2 linked regions of the Homo sapiens genome follow. The protein of the gene in region 2 purifies or fractionates together with the protein of the main gene of each other region. This does not show direct contact. Each region holds a gene or a part of one and is shown on either strand. Other genes may lie near its edges.

Region 1 (3,500 bases), on a different chromosome or scaffold from region 2:
TGGAACTATAGGCGCACGCCACCACGCCCGGCTAATTTTGTATTTTTTGTAGCAATGAAGTTTCACCATGTTACCAGGCTGGTCTCAAACTCCTAAGCTCAAGCAATCCATCCACTTCGGCCTCCCAAAGAGCTGGGATCACAGGCACAAGCCACTGCACCACTGCACCCAGCCACCTCTCTCTCATTTGTCACCTTCCAGTCAATCAGAGAAGCCCAAGGTCCCAATAGAGAGGGTCACAACTGCCAAAAGCTTTAGATATGTCCTCTAATCTCCCTGACAAGGTCATGTGAGTATTATCATCTCCTATACAGATGAGGAAACAGAGGCTCAGAGGAGTTAGGACACACAGCAAGCATCAAGATATTTTGGTGCCAAATAATTTGAGCTTTGGCTCTCCCTCTGCTACTGATTTGCTATGCTGCCTTGAGCAAATCAGTTCCACTGTGGACTCCTTTTTCCTTTTACTAATAATTATAAAAGGAAAATAACTGCACAGTCCACTTACCCCAGAGGGGTAGACTTAATGAGGGGACCAGTGAAGATCCTCTGCAGATTTCAGAATTATATCTAAGCTCTAGGCATGTTTCAGAGAAAGCAAGCTCCAAAAAGGCACATGCACCTCCTTATGTACCACCAAACTTGTTCCATGGTGGCTAAAGGGTGAAAGTGCATGCTATAACTATAGACAGAATGGCCTAGAACTAAGAGATGGTATATCAGAGTAGCACTAGCACCTGGCCAACCCAGGACCCAATGTGGGCCAAGGAGACTAGAAACAAGATATGTATGATGCTTCCCTGAAATCTCAGTAACCAAGAAGGACTCCCATAGGCCCCAAGTCTACAACCTCCTCACTCCAGTCAGAGAGCCTGGTTCTTGGAAGAACTAGATAGTCATTACCATTCACTACCTTGCCCTGATCCCATTAGGGGGAACAAAGACAGCTCTTTCCATTTCATAGTTGAGAAAAACTAAGGTCTATTTGTAGAAAGAAACAACCTACAGTTCCTTGGCTGTGAGAACTCTCAAAGGGCAAGGAAGTGCTCCTTCAACCTCAGCCCCTTAGCTTTCTGAAGTTGGCCTCATCCCTGCTCCTTCTTATTAGTCAGCACTCCCTCTACAGAAAACCTGCCCTTGTGTCATGCTAGGCAACATCTTGCCCAAGCTGTACCCCTATAAACCTGACAAGATATATTTTTCTTTTCTGAGATGGGGTCTTGCTATGTTGCCCAAACTGGTCTTGAACTCCTGAGCTCAAGCAATCCTCCCACCTTAGCTTCCCAAAATGTTAATAGTGCCGAGGCTGAGGAACTCTGGTCTAGAACACAAGTGAACTTTTAGGGTATAAGTATTCAGCTGGGCCTGGGCCTAATGCCCCACCCCTTGGACATCTATTAAGATTTGTGGGTACATAATAATGGGGGAGGGAGTGGCAACATATGCCTAACCTAGAGCTGCCATGGAAAACTCCAGGATCTTACGTGGAACTGGCTTTAGGGAACCTAATCTCACTACCCCAGGGCATTCTCAAGCAGGAAAAACCCCACCTGTCCATGAAAAGGGCCTGGACTTCCTGTACAGAACAAAAGGGAGAAGGAAAATCCTACCTGCCTGACCCCTGGCCAAGTCTCTAACCATTCCAGCCTCCACAGAGCCCAGTTCTTGTGTTGTTCTGCCCATCTACCCAAACTCCCACCTTACCAAGCACCCATGGAAGCAAAGTAGAAAGCACAGGGCTGTGGATGAATTGGATATATGAAGCCACATTCAGCTGGCCAAGGAAGAAGGGGTATCAGCCAGTTCCATAATTCCTTTTTGTTGACTCAGCTAGGGTAGGCTAGTTTACAGGGGAGTTTCAGAAGTAGCAAACCTTTGTGAGAAAGGGATATATGTCCCCAGCCTTTGGGCTATCAAATCACAAATGCTAAATGCCCCTGGCTCTTGGTTATATTTAGAGCTCTAAAGCTTCTTCCACGCCCTGGGCACACTAAAGTAATGCAATTTCACAGAAGAGAGAATAAAGGCCTAGCTAGGTAAAGTACCTCAGCCAGAGAAACTATAAGGGAAGTGGGATTAGAACTCAGGTATACATTCTCCCAACCCCACCACCAGCTCCTAGTCTTCTCACCTCTAGCTCATTCAGCCTCTGGATTCGGGGGGTAAACCTGAAGTTGTCCACTTCCACAGCAAAGGGTGGCTGCCAGTCCTGAGAGGGTAGAGAGGGGAAAGGGACTTGAGTTATCTCAGCATAGTGTAAGACCGGAAGTCACCAAAAGCAGCTCGGAATCCCACTGGCACCTTCCCAAACCTCTAGCCACTCCAGACCCTTTAACCTGCAAACATCCTACCCAACCACCCACCCCCACCTCCCCCCAGAACTCACAAGAGTCTAGCAGCCCCTCAAGTCTGCACCCAAGGCCCCATGCACATGCCCTAGGAAACTTCTCCTGAGTCCCACCCAACAGTACAGTGCCAGGATTTCAAGAAATTAAGAGATGGAGCCTCTGTTTTGTTGACCCTAAACCTTCTCCACACCCACATTAATTCCTTATCCCCTAGGCACGTGCTGTAGGACACACAGGCCTGGGAGTACTGGAAAGCACACAGGATCTAGAGTCAGAAGATATGGGTTCATGTTCTAGATCCGCTACTTACTAGCTATGAGATTTTAGCTTTCTGAACCTGTTTTCTCATCTGTGAGGTGGGAATATGAACTCTAGCCCTGGCTTCCTTGCCAGACCAATATGGAAAATTAAAACTAGTTTTCAAATGAAAATGTTATTCAAAGGAGTCACCGTTATGACCTGACATCTAAGGCTGACCACACCTCACAATACACATGCAGGGTAGCTCAGGTCCGATTGTGGCAGGACGTAAAGGTTTGGGCCTTTAATGTTTGTTCTCTCAGTTTAAAGGGCCTGAGATAGACACTGCAGGGAAGAGCAAGGAACAGGGAGCAAGTATGTGTATCACTCACCCAGTCTGGAAGGCTTCCTGTAGATCCTCTCTCATACACCTGCCTGGTACAGGAAGAGGCAGGGGAGGAAGCCCCAGGGGGTGGGGGTAAGTGCTGGGATGCCTGACTGTGGTGGCAAAGAATGGGAGGATTTGGGGAGGGAAGTCAGGGAAAGATCATGAAAGTGGGAGACACTCTGCTCTGCCAAGTTGGAGCTTGCTGTGTCCTGCCCAAAGGTCAGCTGTGAAGAACCCCCTCTCCAACACCCCTTTCCAACCTCCTATGCAGACCTCTCCTTCCCAGAGCCCTGGCTCCTGCTGGGGTGGTGAAATCAACCTAAAGTAACCTAAACCAATGTTCTCATTTTATAAATGGGGAAAGTGAGGCTCAGAGAAAAAAAGTGAAATTTCCAAAATTACATGCTGAGTTAGTGGTGGGGCCAAGAACCCACGTCTTCTGACCTCTGATCCAAGGCCTTTGCACTACACCAGACATCAATGTTCATACATACATGCATACACGTGGGCGGGGGGGAGAGACA
Region 2 (5,506 bases):
TCTCAATAGAGGGCGCTGGTGAGGCATTAGGGATAGAGGTGTGAAGACACCAGGTGAAGCCTGCCCGAGCCCTGGATCCAGAACGTGGTCCTGTGACTTTGCAGTCTTGACCTGGTGAAAACCTTTCTGCAGCCCTCTCAACACACACAAAAAACAGAGCCCCTAAGGCCGGGCGCGGTGGCTCATGCCTGTAATCCCAGCACTTTGGGAGGCCAAGGTGGGTGGATCACCTGTGGTCAGGAATTTGAGACCAGCCTGACCAATATGATGAAACCCCATCTGTACTAAAAATACAAAAATTTGCTAGGCGTGGTGGCAGGTGCCTGTAATCCCAGCTGCTCAGGAGGCTGAGGTAGGAGAATCGCTGGAAACCGAGAGGTAGAGGTTGCAGTGAAAGGAGATCGCGCCACTGCACTCCAGCCTGGGCGACAAGAACAAAACTCAAAAGAGAGAGAGAAAAAAAAAAAGGCCAGGCGCGGTGGCTCACGCCTGTAATCCCAGCACTTTGGGAGGCCGAGGCAGGCGAATCACCTGAGATCAGGAGTTTGAGACCAGCCTGGCCAACATGGTGAAACCCCGTCCCTCCAAAAACAAAACAAAACAAAACAAACAAAATTAGCTGGGTGTGGTGGGATTCATGCCTGTAATCCCAGCTACTCGGGAGGCTGAGGCAGGAGAATCGCTTGAACCCAGGAGGCGGAGGTTGCAGTGAGCCAAGATGCTGAGTGCCGCTGCACTCCAGCCTGGGGGACAGAGTGAGACTCTGTCTCAAAAATCATAAATAAATAAATGATAATAAACGAACAGAGCCCCCACGGTGGCCCATACACATTGAAGGCCTCCTGCCCCAGCAACACTTAGGTTTCCAGTGCACATCCAGAGCACCAACTGTTGATAACCTGTTCCCACATCTGCACCCTGGAGGGTGGGCCTTTTGCTTGTTTTGCAACTCCAGACCAGCTCTGGCTTGGCCGATCCAGCAATTATCTCCGTTAACTTGTTAGGCGGGACCATACTTTCTCCAAGGAAGTCTGAATGCTCTCCAAATTTGCCCCTTTTTTGGGGATACTCCCTCAGCCCTAAAGTACCACATAGAGTTTCCTTTTATCTTTTTTTTTTTTTTTTGAACTGAGTTTCGCTCAGTCACCCAGGCTGGTGTGCAATGGTATGATCTCAGCTCACTGCAACCTTTGCCTACTGGGTTCAAGAGATTCTCCCGCCTCAGCCTCCTAAGTAGCTGGGATTACAGGCACCTGCCATCATACCTGGCTAATTTTTGTATTTTTAGTAGAGACAGAGTTTCACCATGTTGGCCAGGCTGGTCTTGAACTCCTGACCTCACGTGAGCCACCCACCTCGGCCTCCCAAAGCACTGGGATTACAGGCGTGAGCCACTGCGCCTGGTTTTTTTTTTTTTTTTTTGAGACAGAGTCTCACTCTGTCGCCCAGGCTGGAGTGCAGTTGCGTGATCTCGGCTCACTGCAATCTCCATCTCTCGGGTTCAAGTGATTCTCCTGCTTCAGCCTCTGAAGTAGCTGGGATTACAGGTGCATGCCACTGTGCCTGGCTAAGTTTTGTATTTTTAGTAGAGACGGGGTTTCACCATGTTGGCCAGGCTGTTCTCGAACTCCTGACCTTGTGATCCACCTGCCTTGGCCTCCCGAAGTGCTGGGATGACAGGTGTGAGCCACCATGCCTGGCCTCCCAGGTTACCTTTTATCTTATACTTACTCTTTAATCACAATCTTTTTTTTTTTTTTTTTGAGACAGGGTCTCAGCCAGGCACCGTGGCTTACACTTGTCATCCCAGCTACTTGGGAGACTGAGGCACAAGAATCACTTGAACCTGGGAAGCAGAGGTTGCAGTGAGCCGAGATTGTGACGCTGCACTCCAGCCTGGGCAAAAGGGTGGGACTCTGTTTTAAAAACAAAAAAGAGATAGGGTCTCATTCTGTCGCTCAGGCTCGAGTGCAGTGGTGCCATCGTAGCTTACTGCAGTCTCAACCTCCTGGCCTCAAATGATCCTCCTGTCTCAGCCTCCCGAGTAGCTGGGACTACAGGTGCATGTCACCATGACTGGCTAATTTTTATGTTTTTAGTAGAGACGGGTTTTACCATGTTGCCCAGGCTGGTCTGGAACTCCTGGCCTCAAGTGACCCACCCACCTTGGCCTTCCAAATTGCTGGGGTTACAGACGTGAGCCACTGTGCCCGGCCTATTTTTTTTTTTTTTTTGAGACAGTTTTGCTCTTGTTGCCCCAGATGGAGTACAATGGCACGATCTCAGCTCACTGAAATCTCTGCCTCCCAGGTTCAAGATATTCTCCTGCCTCAGCCTCCTGAGTAGCTGGAATTACAGGCGTCAACCACTATGCCTGGCTAATTTCTTGTATTTTTAGTAGAGACGGGGTTTTACCATGTTGGCCAGGCTGGTCTCGAACTCCTGACCTCAGGTGATCCACCCTCCTCGGCCTCCCAGAGTGCTGGAATTACAGGCGTGAGCCACGCCTGGCCAATTTTTTTTTTTTTTTTTTTTTTTTTTTAAGAGACAGTTCTTGCTTAGTTTCCCAGGCTGGTCTCAAACTTCTGTCCTCAAGTGATCCTCCCATCTTGGCCTCCCAAAGTGCTGGGATTGCAGGCAAGAACCACTGTGCTCAGCCTGGACGCCATTTCTGATGCCTGGATATCATGCCCTTGTATGATTAATTTAAGCCTGTCTCCATTGATAATTTTGGTTTCTTCCAGTTTTTCCTCTGCTAAACAATACAGTGTTAAACATCCTTGAACATACTTCTGTATTCATTTGTAGCAGAACCTCTACCAATCACTGTTTTGGTTATTTCCAGTTGTTTTGTTTGATTTCTAGCTACAAAATAACACTGGAATAAATTTCCTCATCTTTGCACATTTTTTTTTTTTTTTAGAATTTAGCTTTTTTAGAATTTAGAAATTTTAGAATTTAGCATTTTTGCTTTTAACATTTCTTTTTGTGTTGGTCTTGAGCCAGCCCAGGGCAGTGTTGCTGCATATTGCATGGATGAAAGGCTGAAGGCTGCCTCCTCTTGCAGGCTGGCTTCTGAGATTGCACCTTCTTCTCCTGCTACTCCTCCAAATCTATGACCCTTCAAGGTAAGAAGATGGTCTATGGGCAAGGGGTCTGGCTAGTCCAACCTGAAGAGAGGGGCTTCTGCCAAACAAGTGTGCTGTGCTCCAGGCTATGCATCAGGGTGGCTTGACAGTGTCCCAGCTCTCTCTGCATCCTAGTTACTTCTGAAAGCCACAGTCACCACTTTTTCTTCCTTCTTTCCATCCTTCCATATGCCATTTACCTACCCATCCCCTAATCCACCCACCCACCCATCCACCCATCAGTCTACCTCCTGTTGGGTTATCTCTTCACCAGTCTTTCCAGCTCTCTTTAATTTCCCTCCCTCCCTTGCTTCCTTCCTTCTTTCCTTTTATTTGACACGGAGTTTCACTTCTGTTGCCCAGGCTGGAGTGTGATGGCGTGATCTTGGCTCACTGCAACCTCCTCCTCCCGGGTTCAAGCAATGCTCCTGCCTCAGCCTCCCGACTAGCTGGGACTACAGGCTCATGCCACCATACCTGGCTCTTTTTTTTTTTTTTTTTTTTGAGACAGAGTCTTGCTCTGTCACCCAGGCTGGAGTGAGGTGGCGCGATCTCGGCTTACTGCAACCTCTGCCTACCGGGTTCAAACAATTCTCCTGCCTCAGCCTCCTGAGTAGCTGGGATTACAGGCACGAGCCACCATGCCGAGCTAATTTTTGTATTTTCAGTAGAGATGGGGTTTCACCACGTTAGCCAGGCTGGTCTCAAACTCCTGACCTTGTGATCCGCTCACCTCGGCCTCCCAAAGTGCTGGGATTACAGGCATGAGCCACTGTGCCTGGCCTACTTTTCTGTATTTTTAGTAGAGACGGGTTTCACCATGTTGGCCCGGCTGGCCTCGAACTCCTGACCCCAAGCAATCTGCCCACCTTGGCCTCCCAAAGTGCTGGAATGACAGACATGAGCCACCGTGCCGGGCCAATTTGCCTTTAACACTTTATTCATCAGCTTTATTTACCTATTCATCCAAACCTTCATCTGTCTTTCCAACCCATCTACCATTCACTCATCGACTGATTCATCCATTCAGTATCTAGTCCTGTATCTATCTGTCCATCCAACTTCCAATCCACTCACCATTTATCAGTCAAGATGCCCCCCCCACCCAATACCTACCCATTCACAGCTTGGAACCAAGCTCTATGACTGAGATGGGGACACAGAAATGACTCTGTCTTCTAGGATTCACAATCAATGGGGAGAGGCAAATAATCTCCCCCACCACACTTCTCTCTCTCTCTTTTTCAAACACACACACACACACACACACACACACACACACACACACACAGAGGCAAACAGGAAATTTCCAAAACATTGTGATCAGTGCTAAACCCAGGGTACATCCAAGATAAAGTTTGAAAAGCAGGCCGGGCGCGGTGGCTCACACCTGTAATCCCAGCACTTTGGGAGGCTGAGTCAGGTGGATCACCCGAGGTCGGGAGTTCGAGACCAGCCTGGCCAACATGGTGAAACCCCGTCTTTACTAAAAATACAGAAAAGTAGCCAGCCAGGCATGGTGGCGTGCACCTGTAATCCCAGCTACTCGGGAGGCTGAGGCAGGAGAATCGCTTGAACCCAGGAGGCGGAGGTTGTGGTGAGCCAAGATCACAGCATTGCACTCCAGCCTGGGCAACAAGAGCAAAACTCTGTCTCAAAAAAAAAAAAAAAAAGAAAAGAAAAAAGAAAAGCAGGTAAGTGGTCGGGCATTCAGGTGTCATACACTGTGTGCCAAGATGAAGTGGCCGTAGGGTGATGAGAGGTGGATATAAGGATGGCAAAGACCACTTGGGAGAGGGAGGGATGGAAAAAGGGAGGCGGAAGATCGCAACGTGCCAGGAACAAGATCTGGGCCTGGGGGGCCAGTGTCCACCCCAGCCAGGAGACCTCTTGTTTGCAGGACCTGCTACACCCTGACCACCCCCTGCCGCCCCCACAGGCAGAGCTGACCTGTCCGGTAATCAAGGCAATGCAGCCGGCCGCCTAGCTACAGTTCACGAGCCAGTTGTCACCCAGTGGGCGGTGCATCCTCCAGCCCCCGCTCACCCCAGTCTCCTGGACAAAATGGAGAAAGCGCCTCCACAGCCCCAGCACGAGGGCCTCAAGTCCAAGGAGCATCTTCCGCAACAGCCTGCCGAAGGCAAGACGGCGTCCCGCCGCGTCCCACGCCTCCGGGCTGTGGTCGAGAGCCAGGCCTTCAAGAACATCCTGGTAGACGAGATGGACATGATGCACGCCCGTGCAGCCACGCTCATCCAAGCCAACTGGAGGGGCTATTGGCTCCGGCAGAAGCTGATTTCCCAGATGATGGCGGCCAAGGCCATCCAGGAGGCCTGGCGGCGCTTCAACAAGAGACACATCCTTCACTCCAGCAAGTC

Evidence for each region. Proteins that work in one complex are often made in the same cells at the same time.
Region 1: the proteins of IQCN (region 2) and KDM5C purify together in Homo sapiens (affinity purification with mass spectrometry; 2 studies listed by BioGRID and IntAct, with this or other methods). This does not show direct contact.

What each region holds. Positions count from the first base shown.
Region 1 is NC_000023.11:53,218,708-53,222,207, forward strand, and holds part of KDM5C (lysine-specific demethylase 5C), read right to left. Parts: intron 2,210-3,500; coding exon 2,132-2,209; intron 1-2,131. UniProt on the Homo sapiens protein: Histone demethylase that specifically demethylates 'Lys-4' of histone H3, thereby playing a central role in histone code. Does not demethylate histone H3 'Lys-9', H3 'Lys-27', H3 'Lys-36', H3 'Lys-79' or H4 'Lys-20'.
Region 2 is NC_000019.10:18,267,088-18,272,593, reverse strand, and holds part of IQCN (IQ domain-containing protein N), read left to right. Parts: intron 1-3,002; exon of another isoform or gene 3,003-3,006; 5' UTR 3,007-3,115; coding exon 3,116-3,128; intron 3,129-5,028; exon of another isoform or gene 5,029-5,067; coding exon 5,068-5,506. UniProt on the Homo sapiens protein: Essential for spermiogenesis and fertilization. May be required for manchette assembly in elongating spermatids.